Regions from separate parts of the Homo sapiens genome. Here all the other regions are linked to region 6. The links come from fine-mapping of genetic effects on gene expression. A gene starts in region 6. Each other region holds a variant in brackets. All regions are shown on one strand. Distances are between the middles of the regions.

Evidence for each region. PIP is the estimated chance that this variant, and not a neighbour inherited with it, causes the effect. A credible set is the group of variants that fine-mapping cannot tell apart.
Region 1: its variant is the best candidate, but not a certain one, in a credible set for the expression of LPL in tibial nerve (GTEx, PIP 0.88).
Region 2: its variant is the best candidate, but not a certain one, in a credible set for the expression of LPL in blood mononuclear cells (TOPMed, PIP 0.52).
Region 3: its variant is the best candidate, but not a certain one, in a credible set for the expression of LPL in whole blood (TOPMed, PIP 0.64).
Region 4: its variant is the best candidate, but not a certain one, in a credible set for the expression of LPL in whole blood (INTERVAL, PIP 0.85).
Region 5: its variant is the best candidate, but not a certain one, in a credible set for the expression of LPL in spleen (GTEx, PIP 0.57).
Region 7: its variant is the best candidate, but not a certain one, in a credible set for the expression of LPL in lung (TOPMed, PIP 0.65).

The regions. Positions count from the first base shown.
Region 1 is chr8:19,899,467-19,903,535 of GRCh38, forward strand. LOC107986921 (a long non-coding RNA gene) reads left to right here and starts at 2,266. Exons shown (of 3, transcript XR_001745822.1): 1 at 2,266-2,325. The variant G/C (reference allele first, on the strand shown) is at 2,422.
Region 2 is chr8:20,072,226-20,076,294 of GRCh38, forward strand. No RefSeq gene overlaps it. Among named protein-coding and RNA genes, the nearest start is that of SLC18A1, 110 kb to the right of the region's middle. The variant A/G (reference allele first, on the strand shown) is at 2,180.
Region 3 is chr8:20,085,215-20,089,283 of GRCh38, forward strand. All of the region lies in intron 1 of LOC105379311 (a long non-coding RNA gene), which reads left to right. Among named protein-coding and RNA genes, the nearest start is that of SLC18A1, 96 kb to the right of the region's middle. The variant G/C (reference allele first, on the strand shown) is at 1,892.
Region 4 is chr8:20,038,302-20,042,370 of GRCh38, forward strand. No RefSeq gene overlaps it. Among named protein-coding and RNA genes, the nearest start is that of LPL, 100 kb to the left of the region's middle. The variant G/C (reference allele first, on the strand shown) is at 2,266.
Region 5 is chr8:19,980,737-19,984,805 of GRCh38, forward strand. No RefSeq gene overlaps it. Among named protein-coding and RNA genes, the nearest start is that of LPL, 44 kb to the left of the region's middle. The variant G/C (reference allele first, on the strand shown) is at 2,161.
Region 6 is chr8:19,937,109-19,941,177 of GRCh38, forward strand. LPL (lipoprotein lipase) reads left to right here and starts at 2,145. Exons shown (of 10, transcript NM_000237.3): 1 at 2,145-2,420. The coding sequence starts at 2,333.
Region 7 is chr8:19,971,528-19,975,596 of GRCh38, forward strand. No RefSeq gene overlaps it. Among named protein-coding and RNA genes, the nearest start is that of LPL, 34 kb to the left of the region's middle. The variant C/T (reference allele first, on the strand shown) is at 1,883.

The DNA.
Region 1 (4,069 bases), 38 kb before region 6:
GCAAATGTTTCTTTCACATGTTTAAAAGCATCAGATTCTCAGTTCATCTTCCCTAGATGTGGCCAAGGGAAGGCCTGGCTGCCTCAATGCAGATTCTCTACAGATGCACTTGGTAATCACTGGCTTGATTTGGGTAATGTGCCCAGCCCTGAAAAACTAACCCTCCCCAATAAAAACAGCTTTGTAGGGTTACATGTGTTTGCTGACTCTCCGAACAGCCATTGCAAAATATGTCAAAAATATTTTGGGGAAAAATATTTTTATTTTCTTCAAAGACAAGGACAATGACTATCTTGCACAAAGATACATTCCTAGCACTTAGCGGTTTCTGGATCCTCCCAGTGACCTCTTATTTAAAGTCAAGGGACAACACTGAGGGCCAGCGAGACATCCAACAGAATATGTGTGGCTGACACTCAAGACCATGCATGATTAATGGGAGAAGCAGCATTGCCAAGGGGGCAATAATTGTTTTTTAGGGAGTAAAAAGAATCTCTCATATTATAATGGTTTGTGGCCCTCTGAAAGGCCAACATCACTAAACAGAAACACAGTATGCATCACGTGCCAGGGGCTCTCAGCTGTAATCCCAGCACTTTGGGAGACTGAGGCAGGAGGATCACTTGAGGCCAGGAGCTTGAGACCAGCCTGGGCAACAATAGGGAGACCTCATCTCTACAAAAAAAAATTAAAAAACTAGCCAGGTGCGTTGGCCCATGCCTGTGGTCCCAGCTACTTGAAAGGCTGAGGTGGGAGGATAGCTTGAGCCTGGGAGGTCAAGGCTGCAGTGAGCCATGATTGTGCCACTGCACTCCAGCCTGGGCAACAAAGCGAGACTCTGTCTGAAAAAAAAAAAAATTTAAAAAAAGAAATACAGTCTGTTTGTGGTATTAAAATTTCATGGGTGGGGCACTGTTAGAAAAGAAAGATCGGCCGGGCACAGTGGCTCACACCTATAATCTCAGCACTTTGGGAAGCCGAAGCAGGCGGATCATGAGGTCAAGAGATCGAGACCATCCTAGCCAACATGGCAAAACCCCATTTCTACTAAAAATACAAAAATTAGCTAGGCGTGGTGGCGCGTGCCTGTAGTCCCAGCTACTCAGGAGGCTGAGGCAGGAGAACCGCTTGAACCCAGGAGGCAGAGGTTGTAGTGAGCCGAGATTGTGCCACTGCACTCCAGCCTGGCAAAAGAGCAAGACTCTGTCTCAAAAAAAAAAAATAAAATAAAATAAAAGAAAAAAGGTCTATTAAGATCCTCAAAAGGATAGTAAGTATTAAAAAGATTGAGAAATTGTGCTGTCAGCCACATTCCTAAACTTTCAGGTGACTTTGAATATACCATGTAATAATTGGGGGTTCAGCATATTTATCTGTTTGTGGGGAAGGGTGGAGGAAATGGAGATGGCAGGAGGAGAGTAACTTTCCAGTTAACCCATTACTAGCCAGGAACAAAGAAGAGAGTCAAGGCAGGGACCACATATTATATTCACCTTCGTGTGACTCACACATTATCAATAAATGCATAATGAATGAAAAATAAAAAAGGAAGTGATTCATGAAGAAACACAAATTCATTTCTTCAGCAGGGTTTGCCGGAATTGACACTGCTTCAGACATCCAAAATTATTACAGGAAAGTTAGGATGAAGTACCAGCTAATCATTTCCCCTAGGAATCCCATAGTTTTGTATTAACCCTGCTATCATTTCAAAATAATATAAAATCAATCAGAGTAATTTGATAATTTATCTACCTATTATTACATATCGCATTCTTCTGTTTATCAGTAAATTCACAATACTCAAGTATAGTAATGATCAAGAATATAAAGCAGTTGCTTACAATTTTAGTTATGTAAATACTATTTCCTCCATGTAGGAGTTAAATGTTCTTTCCCTTCTCTCTCTTTAGTTTTGAGATTGAAACTGAAGCACTGTGTAATTCCTGAGACTGAGTTTCTTGGAAATTTGGGGCAAATCACAATCAAGTGCAATGGGCAAATTCTTGTTAGGAGTCCAGCTTATGCTGATCAGAAGCCAAGATATACTATAAGAATTAAAATGTGAAATGGCACATATGTCATTTAAAACCCAATTAAATATTCAGCAATGAGGTATGTGTGTAGTTTGTAGAATTATAAATCAGAACTGCTGTTCTCAGAAAGGGTGTAATCTTATTCGGGCCACATGATTAACAGAGAAAGAAAACAGTATACAACATTATGTAAGTAACCCTGATAATGATGTAGAACAGTTTGTATGCTGGAAGAGTTCTGAAAAGATCTCTGAGGGCTGGAAGTGCTAAGGACAATTTCATAAAGAAGGTAAGAGATTATCTACATAGATCTGAATAGTCTAAAAGAAATTGTGAATTCATGTTGGATATTTTGAAGGGAATAAGAGGAAACTGCCACAGTAGG[G/C]GTATAGTCAGTGCCTTGAGGGTCTCTGGGGCCCATAAACAGTGAGAATAGCTACCATTTATTGAGTACCGAGCCCTGGGACATAAAGTCCTCCAGGACACCAAACAATGAGACAATTCAAAATACTGGTTTCTGGTCTTGAGAAAATAAATGACTCTATTCACTGGGTAAAAAATTGTCTCTAGTTCCTTGTTTTCTAAAGAAAAAAATGTAGGAGGCCCTAATCCAGCTGTAAGCAAACAATTCTTGAAAATCATTTTTAATGTTAGAAGAGTTTATGACTTTTTAGCATGTAACTAGGAAGAAATTCTAAGAACAGAATGGCATTAGTATTAACAAATTTTCTTCCATTGTTATCTATTTATTTACATACAATAGTATTCCATATGCTTACACGTATGAAAGTAGAATAAGAATAAAATTGATGCTGAACACTGAATCATTCTAGCAATAACTAACGTTTAACAAACACATCAGTAAATTAAACTTTAAAAAGCCTATCCAGCCAGGCGCAGGGGCTCATACCTGTAATCCCAGCACTTTGCATGGCTGAAGGGGGCGGATAACTTGAGGTCAGGAGTTCAAGACCAGCTGGGCCAACACGGTGAAACCCCATCTCTACTAAAAATACAAAAATTAGCTGGGCATGGTGACTCCCAGCTACTCGAGAGGCTGAGGCAGGAGAATCACTTAAACCCAGGAGGCAGGGGTTGCAGTGAGCTGAGATCGTGCTACTGCACCCCAGCCTGGGCTACAGAGCGAGACTAGGTCAAAAGAAAGCCCATCCATCTCATTAAAAGTGATTTTCTCATAAAATTTTTTTTTTATATTTACCACTTATTAACATTTGTGTTATATGTGATTTATTATGTAATTATCATAGTACCTCAACCCAAAATATAATTTTAACCCTTGGAATCTTATTATAAATTAAGATAACCTTAATTTCAAAATATATAGTTTGTTATAGTATAATATGAAAAATGATTAATAATATTTACATATAAATACCAAAAGTCCCTTGCTGACTTCTGAACTACACATATCTGGGCCAAGGCAATGAAGAACCTAGAGAAGAGATGACAGCTTGGTAGGCACAACAGTATAACGCAGAATAGACCCACAGATGACCCAGATGTTGGAATTAGCAGACAAACATTTTAAAATAACTATGAAAATATGTTTAAAAATGTACAAAGATGGATATATGTGGCAAGAGTAAGGAGTATCAGGGTAACCACAATAAAAAACTAAGTGAAAATTTTAGAGCAAAAAAAATTTTATACAAAAAAAATTGATTGGATGGTATTAATAGAAGATTTTACATAAAGGAGAAAGAATAAGTGAGCTTGAAATTGGATCAACTTAAATCATCCTAAGTAAAGCACTGGAAGAAAAAGGACTTAAAACAGTCAAAATAACCTTCAAGGTGGTATTAAGGCATGTGTAAATAGAGCCCTAGAACAAAATAGACCAAGAACGAGTCAGAAAAAGTATTTAAATTTTAACAAAAATTTTTCTTTTCTTTTTTTTTTTTTTTTTGAGGCAGAGTCTTGCTCTGTCACCCAGGCTAGAGTGCAGTGGTGCGACCTCGGCTCACTGCAAACTCCGCCTCCCAGGTTCAAGCAATTCTCCTGCCTCAGCCTCC
Region 2 (4,069 bases), 140 kb after region 6:
TGACACCTAATGCGGGAGGTTTTTTTGTTTTGTTTTGTTTTTTTTCCACACCAATCACCAACACTGTGACTCTCCAGACATCAACTAGGTGTCCAGTAATTCAACTCAATTCCGAAACTAACCACCAGGAGTTAGATCACACCCCACTAGTGAAGGGCTCAGTCCCACACACAAGCCCCCCACTTCAGATGCCAGTAGTAAATCTGGACCTCCAAACTTCTGGCCAACTGGCTACAAATAAGGGGTCCCCACGACCCCATGCTTGGATTTAATATTTTGCTCGACTGCCTCACAGAATCCAGGAAAACAGTCTACTCGTTTATTATAAAAGACACGACTCAGGAACAGCGTATGGAAGAGAGGCTGTATTTGTCCGTTTTTACGCTGCTGATAAAGACACACCCGAGATGGGAAAGAAAAGGAGATTTAATTTGACTTACAGTTCCACATGGCTGGGGAGGCCTCAGAATCATGGCAGGAGGCGAAAGGCACTTCTCACGTGGCGGAGGCAAAAGAAAATGAGAATGAAGCAAAAGCGGAAGCCCCTGATAAAACCATCAGATCTCGTGAGACTTATTCACTATCACGAGAATAGCACGCACGAGAAAGACTGACCCCATGATTCAATTACCTCCCCCTGGGCCCCTCCCACAATTCATGGGAATTCTGGGAGATACAATTTAAGTTGAGATTTTGGTGGGGAAACAGCCAAACCGTATCAGACGCCCAGGACAATGTATGGGGAAGGGGCAGAGAGCTTCCATGCCCTCTCCAGGAGCACCACCCTCTAGGCACCTCCACGTGTTCACCAGTCCAGAAGCTCTCCAAACCCCATTATTTAGGGGTTTTTATGGAGGTTTTATTACATAAACACAATTGATTAAATCATTGGCCATTGGTGATTAACTCAATCCCCAGCCTCTCTCCCCTTCCTTAGGTTTGGGGCGGGTGATGGGGCTGAATTTGATTCCTCTGGCAACCAGTCCCCAACTTGTTAGGAACGACAAAAGAAGCTCCTCCCACTCCCATCACTCAGGGAGCTCCTAGGGGTTCTTAGACGCTCTTGTACCAGGAACCAGGGGCAGAAATCAAATATATAGTTCTTAATTTCTTATAACACCCCTCCCAGAAATTCTATCTTGCGTCACTATTGGGAGGGTCAGTGTGGCCTGCTTTGTGAGCGGTTTTTTTTCTTTTATTGGTTTGGTACGCCGGGTGCGGTGGCTCACGCCTGTAATCCCAGCACTTTGGGAGGCCAAGGCAGGTGGATCACGAGGTCAGGAGTTCGAGACCAGCCTGGCCAATATGGTGAAAACCAGTCTCTACTAAAAATACAAAAATTAGCATGCGCGCCTATAGTCCCAGCTACTCGGGAGGATGAGGCGGAAGAATCACTTGAACCCGGGAGGTGGAGGTTGCAGTGAGCCGAAATCGGGCCACTGCACTCCAGCCTGGGTGACAGAGTGAGATGCCATCTCAAAAAATAAAAATTAATAAATAAGTAAATAAGAAAGCAAGAAAATTTGCTGTTGCATTGTGGGGATATCCTCTGATGGCTGTCCTTGCATGGTGCCATATTGGTACTGCATGTGCTCATATGCGTATATCCTGTATGTATTTCATATGTTAAGAGATAAAGGGTGCCTCTGTTTCTTCCAAAAACTTCCTGGCTATGGATTAACAGAACTACGTGATCAAAGGGAATCCAAGATTGAAGGGTTAGAGGAAGTGAAAGGAAATTTAATTGAGAAAGGACAGGGCATCCTTAGTGAAGAATTGGGATCCAAAGTCAGAAGTAAGCTCTCCTGGTGATGGAGGAAGCAGAAGCAGTCTGTTGCCTGAGCTCTCTGTTATGTAACTTCAAGGATTCTCACACTCACTCGCACACCCCAGAGTCAGGAGGTGGGGCGTGGGAAAGTACATGGTAGAGGTCACCCCTCTGTAACTTGCAGCAGGGGCTGGGGACACAAAGGCCCTTGAGAAAGCAGCTGATTTCCTCCCCAGCACAGGCCGGTCACCACAGGGAAGATTCCAGAAGAGGAAATTTGCTCAGCTCATAACAAAGTTTATTAGCTTAGCAGATCTGTGTGTCAAACGAGAATCCGTTTCTAAAGACTCCATTCATCAAATTGGCTCAAGCTTAGTCATTTGTGAAAAAACTGCCAAAGACCCCACAAAG[A/G]CAGCATACAGAAAAAACTTGCAGCCCAAGGTTTGGGAGGATTTGAAATATATAAACACAAGAATCAGAGATAAATACCAACTACCTAAGATTATGAGCTGATTTCCTCAAGGGTGGATAGTTAGATATAGAAGGAAACTGTAATTGCTCCATGGGTTTTTCCTGCCCACTGTCCAGACAAAACCAATTCATTGCAACCGTGACACTGCAATAAGGAAGTTTAATTGACACAAGACCAGCCATGCCATGTGGGAGATGAAGTTATTACCCAAATCAATCTCCCTGAGAATTCAGAGGCTAGGGTTTTTTAAGAATAGTTTGGTGGGCGGGGGGCTGAGGGAATGGGTACTGCTTGATTGGATGCAATCACAGCGGTGTGGAAAGTGGTCCTTGTACAGAGTCCCTTCTGGGTAGGAGCCACAGGAGCAGAGTCCTGGGTCCGGGTGGGCCATCTGGTAGTTAGAAATGCAAAAATCTGAAAGGACATCTCAAAAGGCCAATCTTGTTAGGTTCCACAATAGCGATGTTATCTACAGGAGTAATCGGAGAATTTGCAAATCTTGTGACCTCTGGAATAATGGCCGGTAATGGTTCATTACCTTGTTTATAGGTAATAGTTTATTCTGCCTACATCTTAGCAGAATTCAGCCTCCTCTCATCCTCCTAACCTGGTAGTCTTTCATTAGTTTTAGAAAGATGGTTTACTTTTGGGGAAGGGCTGTTATCATTTAAATGATAAACTAAATTTCTCCCAAAGTTAGCTAGACCCAAGCCTAGGAATGGCCAAGGACAGTCTGGAAGTTAAAGGCAAGATGGAGATTGGTTAGATCAGATCTCTTTTACTGTCATAATTTTCACATTTTTAAAATTTTTGCAAAAGTGGTTTCAAAACTGTCCCAAATCTTGTTAGGCATGAGGGACAGGAGGGAACAGGAACAACTGAGATACCTTCTAGGCAGTTAATGCCAGAAGATGTCTCAAGACTGGGTTGGGTCTAGGTCAATTATTTGCGAAAGTGTGGGTGCAAACCATGTTCTATCTAGGGACTGCCAAAACTCAAAACTGGGAAGATGAAATTCTGCTACAGAGAATTCAAATGTGAGGCTAGAAATAAGAGACAAAGTCAAGATGAGGAAAGACAGTACACCACAGCAGTGCCTGCACTTGGCTCAACACCAAGGGGCACAATTCACACTGCAGTCTGTACGAATGGTGCCCAGTAGAGCTGGGCTGTGTGTACCCTGCACCATTGCTTTGTAGCTGTGGATAGTGAGATAAATAAACCAAGAAATGAGAGAGCCCTTGAATCAAAATGATCCAAGATAATTGCTGAGGATAAGGCTTGAGCTTCCTCGTTTTTATCAGCTCTCCATTTTCAAAGCACAAATGGCCTGAAATACAATGAAGATGCAGTAGAAAAAGCAACAGTCTAGAAATTAAGAGACGGGAGGTCAAATCACCCTCTGAGAAGTTGGTCATTTATTCAGTATTCTTGGCGTCTGGTTTATCTCTAAAGTGGAGACAATGAGAAGTGGTCTGCTTCTCTTCCTCTCGGGGTTGAACCAAGTTTGATCAAGGATATAAGCAAACACTGAAAATGAATGCTTTGCAAATGTCAGGGTTACACATGACGCAGTGGTCATGGTTTTAGCAGGGTGCTGAGACCTATCAATGGCCTACAAGACCCTGCAGTATCTGTCTCCTCTTGCTAGCCTCATCCACTCCACTCACACTGGCCCCTTTGCATTCCTCCAGTACCTGTCCCCAAGGGCCTTGTGAGTGGCTCTTCTCTCTGCTTGGCACACTGTCCTGCAGAACATCAGCTTGGCTTGCTACCTTCCCTCCTTTGGGTTTTATTCAAACATCAAGTTCTCAGTGAAGATTTCCCTG
Region 3 (4,069 bases), 150 kb after region 6:
GCATAATAAGATTTCTACCATGCTGGGCAAATCTGTTTATTCATTTCATTCGTCTATCAGATAACACCTATAAAATGAGCATCTACTATAGGTTAGGTACTATTCTTGGCACTGGGAATACAATTTTGAGCAATTATAGATACACTTGCCCTTATGGAAGAAAGATATGAACCACATAAATACATAAAAATAATAATTATGACAAATCTTATAAGTGAGAGGTCCTTGATGCTATGAAAAGATGGAATGGGAGAGATTTTCATTAATCTTAAAGGCTAGGGAAGGCCGAGATATGAATGACGAGAGATTTAACTAGACAAGGAGAAGCAGTATGTGCAAAGGTCCTGTGACTGTTGGGACTATTATATGGAACAAGACTAAAAGAAGTACAGTATAGCTGCAGAGGCAGGAGAATGCCATAGAAACCAAGGGGGCAGGGGAGGCAGCAGCCCCATACAGAGCCCTCCTCACCATACTGAGTTTTGTCTTTATCCTAAGAGCAGTGGGGACTTGTTAATGTGTGTTTAAAAAGAGAATATGTTAATATTTGTCTTATTAAGGAAATTATCTTGGATGCAATTTAGAAAACACTTCAAGGAGCACAAGAGTAGATATGGGTAGACCAGTTAGGAGGCTTCCGTCAAAATCTAAGTAAGAAATGATGGTATTTTGGAATAGAGTAGTCAGGTAGAGAAGTGTGGATAGGCCTGAGAGAAACATAGGGTTCCATAAAATCCACAGAATTTGGTGATGGATCAGAAATGGGGTGCAAGGGAGAGGGAGGAGTCAAGGGCAACTCCTCAGTCTAGGTATTGTTTAATAGATGCTGTTCACTGCCACAGGGGACACTGGGAGGGTCTGGGATGGGGCGGGGCAGCACACACTTCCGTTAGGACATGTTTAACTCAATGTGTTGTTGAGACACTCAACAGGAGATATTGAAGTGGTGGGTGGTGATTTGGGTCTAGAGCTCAGAGGAGGAGTTTTGGTTAAATAAGGTAACATGTGCAAAACACTTCTGTCAGCATCTGGACATGAGCGTTAGCCAATGCTATGATTTTCCAGCAATATCTTTAATGTGGTCATGATTAAAACTACATACATGATTAAATGCCTTAACTCAGTTTATATTGCTAAAGCAGTGCCTAGCCCACCGTAAGAGGTTATAAAGGTTGGGGAGGAAATTAAAGGGATTATATCTCTGAAGACACTTTTTATTTCTATGTATCAGTGTAAGAAATTATGTCTTCCAAATTTGACCCAGCTTTGGGAACTTCATAGACAGGGGGCAGTATCTCCACCTGTTATTTAGAAAACTTCACATTGTTTTCGAAATAGAAATTTAATATTTCCAGAAATTGTCCTTTATACTGTTATCAGAAAGAGCACTGAATAAAGAGACAAGAAACCCAGTTCTAATTCTTAGCCCCACCTTTGCCACTTTGGTTCCCTGGATGAATTACGTGTTTAAGTTCCATATTTGATTGATTTTTAAACATCCCAGGAAGCAACAGCTTCTTGGTACTCAGACCAAGGAACCCACACAAAAGCCACAGAGAAGCCACGCCTCAAAAAACAGACTGGCCCGGCAGGCTCCCTTCCTTTGCCCCCAGCATGGAGATAGCCATCTGGAGATGGCAGGATCATCTGATTAACAGTCATCTTGCATTTGCTTGTTATTCTCTCCGTGTTTCCTCTTAAGTCAAAGGTCAGTGATTTCCCCACTTCCTGTCCCTGCAACAGACAGAAGAAGATGAGGAATGCAGATATACCAGGGGTCAGGACACTGGCGCCTGGAGACAAATCAGTCTAGGGAGCCAGGACGTGGGTATCCTGAGGCACTTCTTTGTGCTTCCAAACCCTTGGGACCCTTGAGTCTTGGGAAACAAAT[G/C]GGGCCGCTGATGTGAATGGCTGGGAGTAGATCTAACATAATCTCACTTCCCACTGGACGGCCCAGTCCAAGAGGAAGCCAGCACTTAGGGGGATACCAAGGGACATTTACTGCCACAGAGGCTTACTGTATTCCAGGACACAGCTGTGGGTCACAGCACTTAGAGGAGAAGAAAGGTCTGTTGGGGAGGTGATGAGTTCAAATCCCAGCTCTGCTACCAACTCACTCCATGGCCTTAGATGAGCAGCTTTCTAAATTTAAGCTTCCTTGTCTTTAAAATCTTAATGACTCCCCTACCCTACCTCACAGGATTGTCATAAAGATCATGAGATTACAGGAATGAGAGCAAGCACAGGTCCCAACACACAGTAAGGAGTAAATTCTCAATACGTGTTCTAGAAGATCTCCAAAGCAGACATAAATTCTTGCTTCATAGCACTCAACAAGAAACTTCAATGTGTGAGGGGCCCATCAGAGTAAACGGAAGACATATTGTCTTCCTACTCCTCTCACAGAATTCTGCTGGGATCAATTATGCAAAAGAAATAAAAGAGATAGAGAGAGACACAGCCTTTGGACCAGTAAATCCCAAACTCTGGAGACTCCAAAAGGAGCTGAGCTCAGTGGAACATTTCCTCACGTGTTCTGCCTATGTTTTCAGCCATGCAGAGCCCTGGAAATGGGTTCTGGATCATGGGTCTTCTGGAATGTATTTGCAGGAAACTTTTTGCCATCAATCTTGAGAATATGCCAAATCACAGAATCTACCCCAGGTCCAGGAGATGCAGGAAAAGAGATCTGATGGGTAAATGCACTGGCTTTGTCAACTACATTAGTTCTTTGAAGACAAACAATTCTTACAGGGCCAGGCATGGTGGTTCACGCCTGTAATCCCAGCACTTTGGGAGGCCGAGGCAGGCGGATCACGAGGTCAGGAGTTTGAGATGAGCCTGGCCAACATAGTGAAACTGTGTCTCTACTAAAGACACAAAAAATTAGCCAGGCATGGTGGCACCCGCCTGTAGTCCCAGCTACTCGGGAGGCTGAGGCAGGAGAATCGCTTGAACCTGGGAGGCGGAGGTTGCAGTGAGCTGAGATCACGCCACTGCACTCCAGCCTGGGCAACAGGGCTCTCCTGTTTTTAGAGCCTCCATCTCAAAAAAAAAAAAAATTCTTACACTGATACACAGAAAGGAAAAGCATTTTCAGAGACATCTCTTTTACTTTCTGCTTAGCCTTTATTAATTAAGCTCTTCCTATGCCATAGGCACTGCTTTAAGTACTTTAAATGTGTGACCGTATTCAGCATGTAAATTTAACCTTGTTGGGGATGACCACATAGAGAGGATCTTTCCATAACCCACCCTCTCCCATTGTCAGAGGAAACGGGTAGGATATTCCCTCTTGTCTCACATCCTTTGTTGGTTGTTCCACAGTGAGCACCCACCACGTCCCCGCACTTCCCTTGTTGACTGCTTAGCTGTTAGAATAGCTTAGGGAAGATTGATAAAGCTCCAGTGCTTCAGTCAAGACCCCTGGCCCTTCCCCAACCCTCATAGCCTCACTGCCACAATCTCCCTGAAGACCACCAGGGTTAGTCTTTTTGTGCCCAGTGGGGGTCAGCCTGCAAATCCCCAGACGGACTGTCTTGGCCAGACCCCCATGCCCAGAGGGCCTGCACACCCTGACAGTCTGGCCCAAGGCCCTCTGCAACTTGCTGTCATTCATCAGGAAAGTACCACTTAATCTAAAACTCTTCCTGAATTTTGCCTTCACTGTCTTGATTGAACTCACGCCTTTTATCTTTGGCTGCCTATTATAGCTGCCTGTAAAGCACTTTAAAAATTAAAAAAAAATTAAAAAAAATCCATCTTCCTCCCCTCCCCAATAATTGAGTAAGGATTTGGGGGCAGGGGTGGGGGCGGGGGCTGGGTGGAGTTTAAGCATGGTTATTTTTAAAACATTTCAAACAAGAAAGGGGTTGAGTCAAAGCTCTCAGGAGATGTGCAGGATCTCCAGAAGAGCCGGAACTCTGGCTAGGCCAGCCAGGCAGCAGAGGGGACCCTCTGTCTTGGGGCAGCCCTGGAAACAGGGGAAGGGGGATGTCTCCACTGCCACCTTCAGCAAAAATTGGAGTCTACCCACCACACACTCCCTCAGGGTACTTGCTATCAGTAA
Region 4 (4,069 bases), 100 kb after region 6:
CCTTCAGTTCTGCTCTGATCTTAGTTATTTCTTGCCTTCTGCTAGCTTTTGAATTTTTTGCTCTTGCTTCTGTAGTTCTTTTAATTGTCATGTTAGGGTGTCAATTTTAGATCTTTCCTGCTTTCTCTTCTGGGCATTTAGTGCTATAAATTTCCGTCTACACACTGTTTTAAATGTGTACCAAAGATTCTGGTATGTTGTGTCTTTGTTCTCACTGCTTTCAAAGAACATCTTTATCTCTGCCTTCATTGAGTTATTTACCCAGTAGTCATTCAGGAGCAGGTTGTTCAGTTTCCATGTAGTTGTGTGGTTTTGAGTGAATTTCTTATTTCTGAGTTCTAATTTGATTGCACTGTGGCCTGAGAGACAGTTTGTTGTGATTTCTGTTCTTTTACATTTGCTGAGGAGTGCTTTTCTTCTAACTATGTGGTCAATTTTGGAATCAGTGCAATGTGGTGCTGAGAAGAATGTATATTCTGTTGATTTGAGGTGGACAGTTTTATAAATGTCTATTAGTTCTGCTTGGTCCAGAGCTGAGTTCAAGTCCTAGATATCCTGGTTAACCTTCTGTCTCGTTGATCTGTCTAATATTGACAGCGGGGTGTTAAAGTCTCCCATTATTATTGTGTGGGAGTCTAAGTCTCTTTATAGGTCTCTAAGGACTTGCTTTATGAATCTGGGTGCTCCTGTATTGGGTGCATATATATTTAGGACAGTTAGCTCTTCTTGTTGCATTGATCCCTTTACCATTATGTAATGGCCTTCTTTGTCTCTTTTGATCTTTGTTGGTTTAAAGTCTGTTTTATCAGACACTAGGATCACAACCCTGCTTTTTTTTGCTTTCCATTTGCTTGGTAGATCTTCCTCCATCCCTTTATTTTGAGCCTATGTGTGTCTCTGCACATGAGATGGGTCTCCTGAATACAGCACACTGATAGGTCTTGACTCTTTATCCAATTTGCCAGTCTGTGTCTTTTAATTGGAGCATTTAGCCCATTTACATTTAAGGTTAATATTGTTATGTGTGAATTTGATCCTGTCATTATGATGTTAGCTGGTTATTTTGCCCATTAGTTGATGCAGTTTCTTCCTAGCATTGATGGTCTTTACAATTTGGCATGTTTTTGCAGTGGCTGGTACTGGTTGTTCCTTTCCATGTTTAGTGCTTCCTTTAGGAGCTCTTGTAAGGCAGGCCTGGTGGAGATAAAAACTCTCAGCATTTGCTTGTCTGTAAAGGATTTTATTTCTCCTTTACTTATGAAGTTTAGTTTGGCTGGATATGAAACTGTGGGTTGAAAATTCTTTTCTTTAAGAATGTTGAGTATGGCCCCCCACTGTCTACTGGCTTGTAGAGTTTCTGCTGAGAGATCAGCTGTTAGTTTCATGGGCTTTCCTTTGTGGGTAACCCAACCTTTCTCTCTGGCTGCCCTTAACATTTTTTCCTTCATTTCAACCGTGGTGAATCTGACAACTATGTGTCTTGAGGTTGCTCTTCTCGAGGAGTATCTTTGTGATGTCCCTGTATTTCCCGAATTTGAATGTTGGCCTGCCTTGCTAGGTTGGGGAAGTTCTCCTGGATAATATCCTGAAGCGTGTTTTTCAGCTTGGTTTCATTCTCTCTGTCACTTTCAGGTACACCAATCAAATGTAGATTTGGTCTTTTCACATAGTCCCATATTTCTTGAAGGCTTTGTTTCTTTTTACTCTTTTTTCTCTAAACTTCTCTTCTCGCTTCATATCATTCATTTGATCTTCAATCACTGATACCCTTTCTTCCACTTGACCGAATCAGCTACTGAAGCTTGTGCATGCGTCACGTCGTTCTCATGCCATGGTTTTCAGCTCCATCAGGTCCTTTAAGGTCTTCTCTACACCATTTACTCTAGTGATCCGTCTCATCTTTTTTCAAGGTTTTTAGCTTCCTTGTAATGGGTTCGAACATCCTCCTTTAGCTCAGAGAAGTTTGTTATTACCGACCTTCTGAAGCCTACTTCTGCCAACTTGTCAAAGTCATTCTCTGTCCAGCTTTGTTCCGTTGCTGGTGAGGAGCTGCAATCCTTTGGAGGAGAAGAGGTGCTCTGGTTTTTAGAATTTTCAGCTTTTCTGCTCTGGTTTCTCACCATCTTTGTGGTTTTATCTACCTTTGGTCTTTGATCATGGTGACCTAGAGATGGGGTTTTGGTGTGGATGTACTTTTTGTTGATGATGGTGTTCCTTTCTGTTTGTTAGTTTTCCTTCAAACAGTCAGGTCCCTCAGCTGCAGGT[G/C]TGTTGGAGTTTGCTGGAGGTCCACTCCAGACACTGTTTTCCTGCATACCACCAGCAGAGGCTGCAGAGCAGCAAATATTGCAGAACAGCAAATATTGCTGCCTGATCCTTCCTCTGGAAGCTTCAACTAAGAGGGGCACCCAGGTGTATGAGATGTCAGTTGGCCCCTAATGGGAGGTGTCTCCCAGTTAGGCTACATGGGGGTCAGGGATCTACTTGAGGAGACAGTCTGTCCGTCCTCAGAGCTCAAACACCATGCTGGGAGAACCACTGCTCTCTTCAGAGCTGTCAGTCAGGGATGTTTAAGTCTGCAGAAGTTTCTGCTGCCTTTAGTTCAGCTATGCCCTGCCCCCAGAGTTGAAGTCTACAGATGCAGGCAGGCCTCAGTGAGCTGCGGTGGACTCCACCCAGTTCGAGTTTCCCAGCCGCTTTGTTTACCTACTCAAGCCTCAGCAATGGCGGAGCCCCTCCCCCAGCCAGGCTGCCGCCTAGCAGTTCAATCTCAGACTGCTGCGCTAGCAGTGAGCAAGGCTCCATGGGTGTGGGACCCACTAAACCAGGCATAGGATATAATCTCCTGCTGTGCCATTTGCTAAGACCATTGGAAAAGCGCAGTGTTTTGGTGGCAGTGTCGCGATTTTCCCAGTACGGTCTGTCACAGCTTCCCTTGGCTAGGACAGGGAAATCCCTGGACTCCTTAGGCTTCCCAGGTGAGGCATGCCCCACCCTGCTTCAGCTCGCCCTCTGTGGGCTGCACCCACTGTCCAACCAGTCCCAATGAGAAGAACCACATAGCTCAGTTAGAAATGCAGAAATCACCCGTCTTCTGTGTTGATCACGCTGGGAGCTGCAGACTGGAGCTGTTCCTATTTGGCCATCTTGGAACAGAACTGTTGGGGACATTTCTAAAATTGGCAATATACTGATCGCCTTAGGACCAAATCATCAAGATCTACTTCTGTAAGAGACGTAGTCAAAGAACAACATGCAGCCATGGAAAACTGAGTGGGCTGGAGGAGTGATTGTATATACAAAATGGATCTGGGCTGTGTTTAAAGCAAACTAGTCAGTTCCCCAAGACCATTATGGGACATAGGAGAGCCATAGTACTCCCATTTGTAGAAATCCAAACCCACCCCACATCATAAAAATATCATAAAGGTATGCTTAATCCACAGTATATATACTTTTTTTTTTTTTTTTTTTTTGGAGACAGAGTCTTACTCTGTCGCCCAGACTGGAGAGCAGTGGTGCAATCTCAGCACGCTACAACCTCTGCCTCCTAGGTTCAAGCAATCGTCCTGCCTCAGCCTCCTGAGTACCCTGGACTACAAGCATGAGCCACCGCATCTGGCTAATTTTTGTATTTTTAGTACAGACGGGGTTTTGCCATGTTGGCCAGGCTAGTCCCGACCTCAAGTGATCCACCTGCCTCAGCCTCTCAAAGTGCTGAGATTACAGGTATGATTCACCACACCTAGCCCACATTATATATACTTTTTAATTGAAAATTTAAAATGTATTTACATTTTTACTTTTACTTTTGTAAATTACATTGTAATTTACACTCGACTCTGATATTTTGGTACTCATTAGGCCTCCTCAGGAATTTTTGTAAAGTGAAAAAAGGCTAGCCTGAAGTTGTGCTTGAATGTAATAAGCTTTTTATAAGTATTAAATTCAGCATTTAGTAACACTAACATATATTTGTGGACATTTAGTCAAATATTTTTCAAGCTCGATTTTGCAGCTTTCTTGGAATATACTGAAGCCAATGATTATATTTTCAGGTCTCAAGCCTTAA
Region 5 (4,069 bases), 44 kb after region 6:
TTGCTGACAGAAAAGTAAAATGCTTCAGCCGCTTTCAAAGAAGTCTGACAGTTGGTCAAACAATTAAATATACAGTTACCATAAGACCCAGTAATTCCACTATGGGTACATAACTAGAAGAAATTAAAACATATTTCCACAAAAAATGTGTACATAGACATTTATAGCACATTTATTTATAAGGCACAAAAGGTGAAACAACCCAAATATTCATCAACCTACGAATGAATAAACAAAATGGGACATAATCATGCCACGGAACACTATTCAGCCATTAAAAGTAACCAAGTACTGATACATGCTATTACTTACCACATCCCACATAGACCTAGAAAATATTATGCTAAGGGAAGGAAACCAGCCACCAAAGACTACATATTATCATTCCATTTGTATGGAAGTCCAGAATAGAGAAACCGACAGAAACAGAAAATAGATTAGTGGTTGCTGAAGGCAGGTGATGGTAGTGGGGATGGGAAACTGTTTAAAAATGAACAAATATTTTGACAATTCACCAAAGAAAAAATGTTGTTGGGAAAGAAACATATGAAAAGATGCTCAACATAATTTGTAATATTATATAGGTTAAAATAAAAAGACCAACTTTATTGTTAGCAAAGATTTAGAGCAACTAGAACTCCCAGACATCGTTGGTGGGGATGCCAGATGGTACAGCCACTTTGTAAAACAGTTCTGCAGATTCTAGTAAAGTTAAACTTACATGTATCTAGGACCCAGATTTTCACTCTTAGGAATTTTACCCAAGAGAAATGCAAAATATCGACGCAAAACCTACAGTAAATATTTAGAGCAGCTGTATTAGCTTCCTATTACTACTGTGACAAATTACCACAACCTTCGTGGTTTAAAGCAAGACAAATGTATTATCTTACAATTCTGAGGTTACAAGTTCAAAATAACTCTTAGGCTAAATCAAAGTATGTTGGGTTTTGTCTATTCTGGAGGCTCTAGGGGAGAATTCACTTTCTTGCTGATTCTGACTTCATTCCTGGATTGTAGCCTCCTTCATTTTCAAAGCCAGCCATGTAGCATCTTCAAATCTGTCTGTCTCTCAGACACACACACACACACACACACACACACACACACACACACACACACGGCTCTGCTTCTCCTACCTCCCTGCTTCCCTTATAAGAACCTTTGTGATTATACTGGGCCAACCTGGATAAACCAAGATAATTTCTTTATCTCAAAATTTTTAATTTAATCATACCCACAACATCCCTTTTGACATTAACATATTCACAGTTTCTGGAGATTATGATTCAGATGCATTGTGTGTAGAAGACAAAGGGGTAGAGCCAGGCGTGGTGGCTCACACCTGTAATCCCAGCACTTTGGGAGGCCGAGGCAGGAGGAAGCACCTGAGGTTGGGAGTTCGAGACCAGCCTGACCAACATGATGAAATCCAGTCTCTACGAAAATACAAAAATTAGCCGGGCCTGGTGGTGGGCACCTGTAATCCTGGCTACTTGGGAAGCTGAGGCAGGAGAATTGCTTAAGCCCGGGAAGCGGAGGTTGCAGTGTGCTGAAATCGCGCCATTGCATTAAAGCCTGACCAACAGAAACAAAAACAGAAACAAAACAAAACAAAAAACTCTCAAAAACAAAAAACAACAAAAATGGGATGGAGCAGGTATTATTCTGACTACTACAGTAGCTTTACTTAAAATTGCTAAAACTGGAAAAAATGAAGATGGCCTGTTACCTGATGAATGGATAAACAAATTATGATACATTCCACACAGTGGACACAAAATCTGAGACACCTCAACACCACTCCCTTACATAATCTTCTCACACCAACATGCCTGACACATGTGAGAAGTGAATGGTAAGGCTGGTGTGCATCTTAGAGTCACTGACCTCCTGACAAAGATTCTCTCTTTGACCAAACTCTAGACAGGCTCCTCTGAGCTCTTTTTCATTCATTCCATGTCCTTGGATGTGTTCTCAAGAGTCCGACTTTAGCAAGAATTCTGCTAAGTTAGTTTAGGCAGGACCCTCGATATGTCACCTTTGATATGTGATTGAGTTCCTCATCCTCCACCATCCCTCAGGTGACATCCGATTCGCCTGGCCTGCCTTCAATAAGAATCCTATTAGTTGGATTTAGCCAGAATCTCCTCCAACTCT[G/C]ATGTTTCCTCTTAGTAATTTTCCTTCTGCTGCTAAAAATTGGCTATAAATTCCCAATTGTTCTTGTTGTTTTTGAAGTTGAGCCCAATTTCTCCTGATTACTGCAAAACTCCATTTAGTACACCTTATACCAATGGTGATGGTCCTGAATAAAGTGTGCCTTACCATTTTAACCAGTGTCAGGAATATTCTTCTTTAACACTGCTCATGTTATAGACAGAATACTATCATCTGAAGAGATCAGGTGACTTGCCCAAGTGCACATATCTGAGATCTCCTGCTTCTTGGTTTGGTACTTTCCCTACCATACTCCACATTAATCCTTACTGAGTTCCTACTCCTAAGAAAATCATAATGTGAGTGAAAATTAATAGCATAAAGCACTATACGGTGGTCTTTCTTTCCCTTAAAGCATGAGTTTGAGAGGGCTTTATGGTACAGTCATTAACAACTCAGACTTGGGGACAAACAGGTACAGTAGCAGGTCCTGGCTCTGCTACTTCCTAATTAAGTAATTCCCTGTGCCCTAGTTCTGCCTTCATAAAATAAAGCTAATAATATCTAATATTCAGGGCAGTTGTCAGAATTAAATAGGAATTTCCTGGTAAAATTCTTAGCATGCTAAGTGCTCAGTATCTGGTGGCTATTATCATTCTTGTCACTATCATTATCGCTGGTCTTTATTGAAAATCAGAGCGGAGCTAACAGACCCATGTAGGCCCTTTAGCATCCACTCTTCTGAAAAAGACAATTTGTAGAATGGCACACAAGCCTTTTGCTGAAGTTCAAAATCAGCCCAAAGGATGCTTTGTTTAAAAATATAATAATAATTGCTTTGTAAAATACATGTTTGTAGTTGACTGGATTCAACTGAATTCTACCGATTATTTCAGAAAACAATCAGTTGCATGAATTTTACATCTTAAAATAAGCTAGTCTGTCTCCAGATAGGTAAGGTGGATAGAGTCTTCAGAACAAGTAAATTTCATCCTTACTTTCCTCAGTTAGGTTATATCACATTTAATGTTTAGTGAGAAGCAAAGATGAGCGTGATCACAAAGTGTTATAAAAATACATATAAATTCAAACAATGTATATTTTGGAAGAGAGATAGGGTTTGTATACAATGCAAAATAATTGATTTTACCTAAAATTTCAACCTTTGTAAATTTTGTCACCTGTGCAGTTGGAATAGAGGTGATTACATTGCCTGCAAACCCTGCCTTTGGGGTTTGCACAGAATCGTATAATAATATCTCATATGTACAGAGCGTTTACTGTCTGCTGGTGTTGTGCTGAGCACTTTATGCAAATTAACTTTATGTGCATGAACTTGTGCACATTAATTTTTAAAATCTTCACAGCACACCTGTGAATTAGGCCCCTTATAGTCATTATTTGAACAATTAGGAAATCAAGACACAGAAAAGTTAAGTAATGAGCCCGAGGTGACGTGCGGAATCTAGACTCACTCTTGGGCCTCCTTAGCAGGGACAGGCTGTGGGTGAAGCCAGTGGGGTCATGGCTGAGGGTGCAGGTCCAGGTAAGGAAGGAGCAGGCTGGGCAATTTGACAGCAATTGAAAGACCTTAGAGAAACTTGTCAAAGTAAGATCAGGAGGGCGGGGAGACATAGCAGCCAAGGAAAATAAGGTGGGGAAATCTGTGAACCCTTCTTTAACTTAGTAAAGAGAGTGGGGGCGGTGGGGGGAAGCTTATTTGACCTTGGAGAGAAAGGCCTAGTAAAGGGAGGCAGAACACAAGTTTAGGGAATTACCATTGGAAGGATGCACCTCCTTTGCTGGAGAAAAATCAGGGATCTTAATTAGGCTGCTGCTGCTGAGGTATTAGTGGAGGAATCTCTTTAGCTCAAGGAGGGCCGTTGCCAGAGGACAAATGGGGGAGCATCCC
Region 6 (4,069 bases):
GTTAGAAGGCGGGCACCTGATGGCTCCCAGTGCAGCCAATCAGGAGAGAACGTTGCCGCCACACCCACCTGCTCCGCGCTGGCCCTGGGAGAGGAGCCAACCTGTCTTGCTTTTTTTTTTTTTTTAACCAGGCTAAGCTGCTGTAAATTAAGTCTTCCTGGAAATCTCAGCAACTCTATTGGACGTGCTAATGGCACAGTTCACTCCAAACTGGATTCATATTTAAATATTACATATCCTCCAACTCTTGAGTGCTTTAATTTTGTTATCTGGTTAGCCTGGGAAATCATTTTAAAAATACGCTATAAGTATCAGACTTTCCCTTAGCAATTATATAAAATCTCCTTGCAGTTTTCTGAAAGGCACAGAAGTGCAGTTTGATTTGGTTGTCTTATCAAAGGACATTTATGCATGAAAATAGGCTGCAGGAGTATTCTATATAAGATAGCAGGCAGTTCTGCACGTCTGTTTATATGCCATTCACACCATGAACACATCCAATGCAATTGTATTCATCTTCTGTCATTTTTTAAAATTAGAGTTTACTACATGATTTTTGGAGGACGGCCATATCATAGTTATTCATCCCTTGCATGGTCTGTTCTGCCACTTCTAAAGTTCTGCGAAGTTTAATTTTTGGCAGGTTTCAAGATTCTCTACATACTTTGTAGGTTAGAGTGAACGTGCACAGTATATTGTGTAATAATTGCAATACAAGACGGTGTGTTGTGTTGTGGCACGGAATGCATCAACTTAAAGATAGAATTGTTATGCAGAATAGAGACCTTTGAAATATTTGGGTATTATCAACTTTTATTTCATTTTTTGAGAAAAACTTAAAAAGTGAGCCCAGTTTTTTAAAAAGCATTTCATTGTTCTAACCTACAATTGTGCATTGTATGTTTGTGTGTGTGTGACGGAGGGTGGGATGAATAAAAGGGGACATTAAAAATATTCAGACCATAAATATAGTAGATTGGAGGTTCTGATTTGATGAGCCAGTTTCTCAGCCATAAACTGAGAGGGGGTTGGGGATACACTTCATTGTCCTTCCTGGCTAATGTAAATCCCTTATATTTAAAAAGATATTTAAAAGTATTCCAAGCATTTTGGCAGAAAAGCATAGTATCTAATGTTATTTTTTTCTTATTTTATGTGCATGCCTCTTATCCATTTAAAAATAGCTTTACTGACCTATAATTTACACACTATATAATTCTCCCATTGAAAGTGCATAATTCTGTTGCTTTTAGTATATTTACAGAGTTGTGCAGCATCAGCATAATGTAATCTAGAACATTGTCATCAACTACCCCCAAATCTCTATTCTTCCCTTCCCCTATTAATTACCCAGCCCCAGGCAAGCACTGATCTACTTTTGGTCTCTATGGATTTGTCTATTTGTGGACACTTTAAATGGAATCATACAATATGTGTCTTTTGCGACTATCTTCTTTCACTTATCATAACTCAATACGGCTTTAGATTATTTGACCTCGATGTTCTGCCTCTGAACATAAAATATTATCCTTGCATTCCTTGATGAGTTTGAGGATTGAGAATAATTTGCATGAGACAAAAATTAGAAACTAGTTAGAGCAAGTAGGCTTTTCTCCATCACATAAGCTGATCCATCTTGCCAATGTTAAAACACCAGATTGTACAAGCACAAGCTGGGACGCAATGTGTGTCCCTCTATCCCTACATTGACTTTGCGGGGGTGGGGATGGGGTGCGGGGTGAGTGAGGGAGGACTGCAAGTGACAAACAGGATTCGTCAAAAGAGAGGTGTATTAAAGTGCCGATCAAATGTAATTTAACAGCTAAACTTTCCCTCCTTGGAAAACAGGTGATTGTTGAGTATTTAACGTGAATCGATGTAAACCTGTGTTTGGTGCTTAGACAGGGGGCCCCCGGGTAGAGTGGAACCCCTTAAGCTAAGCGAACAGGAGCCTAACAAAGCAAATTTTTCCGTCTGCCCTTTCCCCCTCTTCTCGTTGGCAGGGTTGATCCTCATTACTGTTTGCTCAAACGTTTAGAAGTGAATTTAGGTCCCTCCCCCCAACTTATGATTTTATAGCCAATAGGTGATGAGGTTTATTTGCATATTTCCAGTCACATAAGCAGCCTTGGCGTGAAAACAGTGTCAGACTCGATTCCCCCTCTTCCTCCTCCTCAAGGGAAAGCTGCCCACTTCTAGCTGCCCTGCCATCCCCTTTAAAGGGCGACTTGCTCAGCGCCAAACCGCGGCTCCAGCCCTCTCCAGCCTCCGGCTCAGCCGGCTCATCAGTCGGTCCGCGCCTTGCAGCTCCTCCAGAGGGACGCGCCCCGAGATGGAGAGCAAAGCCCTGCTCGTGCTGACTCTGGCCGTGTGGCTCCAGAGTCTGACCGCCTCCCGCGGAGGGGTGGCCGCCGCCGACCGTAAGTTTTGCGCGCAAACTCCCCTCCACCTGCAGACCCGGCGGGTGGCCACTGCCACCCGAACTGAGGATGAGAAGAAGGAAGTTGGAAGGGGCGGTGGATGCGCCCAGGGACTCTCCCAGCCTGGGCTCTAGCCCCGAAACGGTCCCCGGAGTGGGATCCAGGAGGGGCCGGGAGGGAATCTCCTCCCGATCGTGAAGCGGCGGCGCCCAGTTCCCGCTTTTTCTCTCTGCCGGGTTCCCGCGCTATCCCTTCCACTCTGGCTGGGACCGCGTTCCCGGGCTCGCAGGCTCCGCCGGGGAGGTTCCGGGGTGTGGGGGCCGGGACGGCGGAGGCGGGGAGTAAGGGCCCGGCTGGCGGTGACCTGCAGTCACCTCTCTGCCGGAGGGGCCCTGGAATGAAAGGCGCGCGGGCCAAGGTGACCTCGCCTTGGTTGGCACTGCGGCTCAGCCCCCGCCCGGGGACTCGCGGGCCGACTGTGGCCCCTTCTGGGGAAGCCGGGGCGCGGGGAGGCGTTCCGGGCATCTCAGCCGCACGGGGTACGCTCGCCCTCGGCGGGGCCCCTCGCTCCGCTGTGGGAGTGGCAGTGGGTGTCGGGGTGGAGAAAGTACGCGTGGCGCGGAGTCCTGGGGACGCGGCGTCCCACCCGCTCTGGGGAGCCCCGGACTCTCTCCAGCTTCCAGGCTCGCATGCCCCTCTTTTCTTAGTGCCCTGAGAACCCAGCGAGGGGCTGACCCTCCCGAAACCGTGGCGCAGCCACCAGCAATCTGTGGTCGCCGACTCGGGGGGTTGCCAGGTCTGCGTTTGGCCACCCTTTCTGTCCTGGGGGCTGAGGTCAGCTCCGGGCGCCCGGCCCCGCCGCGCGGCTGCGAGCACGTGGGGTTGACGGGCGCCGCGTGGAGGCAGCGAGCACAACGGTGGTCACCGCCGCCAGGGAACCGCCCGCTCGCTGGGGTCCAGGCGTTCGGGGCCAAATGAGAATGTCTCAGACCTGTCCGCAATGGAGGCAGCCTGCTTAATTCGAACCTCGATTCAGTAAACATGCAACAGCAGCATAGAGAGCAGCTGAAGCCATTCATAACACGGGACAACATTTCCTTTTTTCTTCCATGCTGGAATTGCAATTAGGGCGGTGTCGCTTGGATGTGCTCTCAGGCGGCACGTCCCCAGCGGTTCAAGTTATAATAGAGTCTCTCCATAGCTTTGATGGCCGCTAAACGTTTGTTTTATTTTGGCATTAATTTGTGAAACATTTTTGTTAGGTTAAAAAACAAAAAGTTGGCAGGGAGCAGTGGCTCACCCATGTAGTCCCAGCACTTCGGGAGGCCGAGGCCGGAAGACAGCTTGAGCCCAGAAGTTCGAAATCAGCCTGGGCAACATAGGGAGACACCGTCTCTATAAAAAAAAAATACAAAAATTAGCCGGGCGTGGTGGCCTGTGCCTGTGGTCCCAGATAGTCAGCAGGCTGAGAGATCACTTGAGCCAGGGAGTTTCAGTAGACTGCAGTGAGCTGTGATTGCCCCACTGCACTTCATCCTGGGTGACAGTGAGACCCTGTCTCATAAAATTAAAACAAAACAAAACAAACACTAAGTATAGATTCCATCAAAGCAAAATTGGATAAGAAAAAAAGTATCTTTTCTATTGGA
Region 7 (4,069 bases), 34 kb after region 6:
CTGATGAATCCAAAATTTACATCTCCATCTTGTACCTCGCTTCTAAATTTCAGACTTTTTAATATATCCACTTGTCTATCAAATATCTCCACTTGGCTTTCTAATAGGTTTTGGGAACCTATCATGTTATAAAACATTGTTATCCACCAGTTTTCTCCTCCCAGTTAAAAGAATTTCTTCCTTCCAGTTGCTCAGGAGGAAATCTTGGAATCCATACTTGAGTTCTTTCTTCCGCAATACATAATCAATCAGTCAAAAAAACTGGCTTGGTGTCATGGCTCATGCCTGTAATCCCAGCACTTTGGGAGGCCTGGGCAGGAGGGTCACTTGAGCCCAGGAATTTGAGACCAGCCCAGGCAACATGGCAAGACGCCATCTCTACTAAAAAAAAAAAAAAAAAAAAAAACACTTAGCTGGGCATAGTGATGCATACTTGTATTTTCAGGAGACTGAGGTTTGAGCATAGCTTGAGCCCAGGAGGTTGAGGCTGCAGCGAGCTTTTATTAGCGAAAAAGCACTCTAGCCTGGGTGACAGAGAAAGACCCTGTCTCAAAAAAAAAAAAAAAAAAAAATTCTATCAGCTTCACTTAAAAATATATCCAGAATCTGACTGCATTTTACCATTTTTAATGTTATGCCATCAGGTTTCACTGGATTATTTCAATAGTCTCTCCTGGTTTCTCTGCTACTGCTCTTGCTTCTCATTAGTCTATTAATAATGAATCAGGTGAACTTTCTAGAGTAGATCGTAGCATCCCATTCCTCTACCCAGTACTTCAACTCTCTGTATTTTTCATCCTGCCTAACAACAAAAAAACTATAAATTATTGTTTGCATATGCATGTGTGTGTTTGTACGCATACTGTTGTTATTCACCCTGTTTTACATTTAGCCCATTTCTAGCTAATTTTTGTATATGGTACTATCTGTGGTTAGAGGTGTTTTTTGTTTTTGTTGTGGTAGTTGTGGCAATAATTTCTTTTTTACATAGTCAAATTATTCCAGCAATTTGTTGAAAAAAATATCCTCTCTCCATCGAATTACATTGGCAACTCTGTTCTCTGGTCCTCACAGATCAGTTCCTCATGATGACTGATTTTTCAGGAAATGTGGGCTTTGAACAGACTTCACTCAGAAAGCCTGTGCTAGAGTTCCAGCATAGGGACCTCATTCCTTTATCAGGGCTCAGATCCTTCATCCTCTTGTAACAGGCTCTGGACCTACAATGGAAATCTGCTGACATGAGATTAAGAGAAGGTATCTGGAATGAAGGCACTTCTCCGACTCCACCCATTCCGCTGACAGGGCTCCAACAACTCCAGGGTCTTTTAATCAAGAGATTGCTAAGTCAAAGACAATGCCTCCTCAGCCAAATGTGAAACACAAAGGTTTCATAATCAAAATGAAATTCCTTCTTAGCACACAACTGGAGAAAGCTCTAAAGGAGATAAGAATCAATAATAAGATTTATAAAATTTGGCAGCATAAGCTGAGGATGATGATATTTCCCTTAATCTTTATGTTTCCAGATGGCACTGGTGTGGCAGCAGAAATCACATCATGGATGAGACGCTAAGAATTGGCACAAGATCTGCACCTTAGATCCAAAGACTATGTGATCCAGGCCCTCAAATACATCTTTTCTAATCCTCATAATAATTCTATGAGGTTGGCACCATTGCCCCATTACAAATGGGGAGAGGTTATGTGCAAAGTCCAAGCTCACATCACCACAATGGGATAGCCTGAGGATGCAATCCCAACACCATTTCCTGAGTCATGCTGTGCTAGGCCAAAATTTGGATTCCTAAAGTCCCTTAATGGTGATCAAATGGTCCAAGTTGCAAGTTAAGGAGAGTAGGTCGGTAAAGACAATAAATCA[C/T]TGTACTCCCCAGACTTCTCCAACTAATCCCAGTTATTCTTCATGCATTTAACATAAAGCTCTTCGCCGGACAACCTGGCCTCTTACTCTTTCCCTAAACAAAGTTTTTTTCTGTAGTCTCTATATTTTTGCTCAAATGTCCCTCTCTGCCTATAATGACCACCCTATTTTCTAAGTACCTTTAATGACTACTTTCACTCTTCTGAGCTCCCTTCTGAAATCTTTTTTTCTTCCATTGCTATGTTACCACTACGATCTACCTGTCAGCACAAGTGTTGCATGTACTTGCTCCGATGTTGTGTTACTAAAAATAATTACTACCAGTTTTTCTGCATCAACTATGTGCCAGGCACTGTGTGAAGTGCTTGGTTAACATTTGTTTCATTCTCACAATAGCCTCCTGAAATAGGTATTTTTATCTTCTCTTTATTGATGAATATAACGAGATGCAGGGAAATGAATTAATTTAGAAATCAAAGCTAGTAAGTGGGTGAGTTGGCTTTTAAACCAATGTGTGACTTCAAAGTTGGAGTTGTTGATTTTTCCCCCCTTTGAGTTTTAAGCCTGTTTGAACATATCTGGGGCACTTGGAGATGGTGCACCAGAAATACATTGGCAGAAAAAATTTTTCCCAAGAGAAAAGAGAAGCAAAACACATAAAAGTGACTCAAGGATGGAGGCCCAAGACAGAGAGGAGAGGCAACTTTGACTTCCACCATGTGTCTGTTTCTATTGTCTGGCAGCCCAGCCTATGGGAGTTGCCTGAGGTTTAGGGAGAAGCAACTATGATAATCTGTGAATTGCTAGATTTGGCATCCATGGTGTGGGGCATGGTGGTCCAACATTTTCCCAGCAAGCTTCTAATGTGCTGGGGTCTATGGTGGCTTTTGTGAGCTGCACTGACTTCAGTGCGGACTCCACAGGTCAGGGAACCTTGACACCCCCTGTGCTTCGGCAACTCGTTTGTGGTGGGTTGTGACAAGTGATATTAGTAACAGCCGGATGGAAAAAGGAAGGAAAATGTAAGGTCAATGCAAATTTTTATCAAGTACCTACGATGTGCGGGCAATTTTGCAAGGTGCTAGTGTCATGCAGCCTGTGGCATATTTGAGCAGACTTATGGGAGTATATAGAAAAGCTAGGAGTGGGCCGGGCGCGGTGGCTCACGCCTGTAATCCCAGCACTTTGGGAGGCCGAGACGGGCGGATCACGAGGTCAGGAGATCGAGACCATCCTGGCTAACACGGTGAAACCCCGTCTCTACTAAAAATACAAAAATTAGCCGGGCATGGTGGCGCGCGCCTGTAGTCCCAGCTACACGGGAGGCTGAGGCAGGAGAATGGCGTGAACCCGGGAGGCGGAGCTTGCAGTGAGTCGAGATCGCGCCACTGCACTCCAGCCTGGGCGACAGAGCGAAACTCCGTCTCAAAAAAAAAAAAAAAAAAAAAAAAAAAAAAAAGCTAGGAGTGACAAAGGTCTTCATACACTTGTCTTTTTGTAATTCATCTGCCCAGAGTGGGCAAATTTTGGTAATTCATGCACAGGCACTATACTGTACATGCTAACCCTGACTTTACTCACTGCTCTGTTTCTCACCCAAGTTTGTTATGAATGATTTAAAGATGCTGAAGATACCTGGATATAAAGAAGGGGGACGAAGAAGCTAGAAAAATGCTGTTGCAATATTATTTTGGCCCTACATTTCCCCCAGCATTCTGTTGCCCAGAAATTGATTTGCATCACTGTTTGTCTTGCCTTCTCAGTTCCTTTGGCAATAACGATTATATTATCCATCTACTTTTCTTTTAAAAATTCAAAGTATAAAAATAAGTGTATTTAATAATTTGTTGAACAAATGCATACATAAATGAATAAAGACTGTCATGAATAAGTACTTTTAAACTCCAACAAGCAGCATAAATGAATGAAACTTCTCATTTTTCTCTCCATGTCTCCACTTCTGTAGGTTTCTACAAGCAGAGGGTGTAATCAAAATTGACCAGTACACTCATTCTTCCTGGGAACAGAACATGTAGGATGCTCTAAAAATACCTTCTTTGATTCATTAAACTGAGTTTCTCAAGGATGTAACGAAAAGGAACACAATTTGTTCTAGAAAGAGATTTTCCTATATGTCCTAAGAAGGAGAAAACAACCAGGAGACAAAAAGGAACTGAGATATTGACC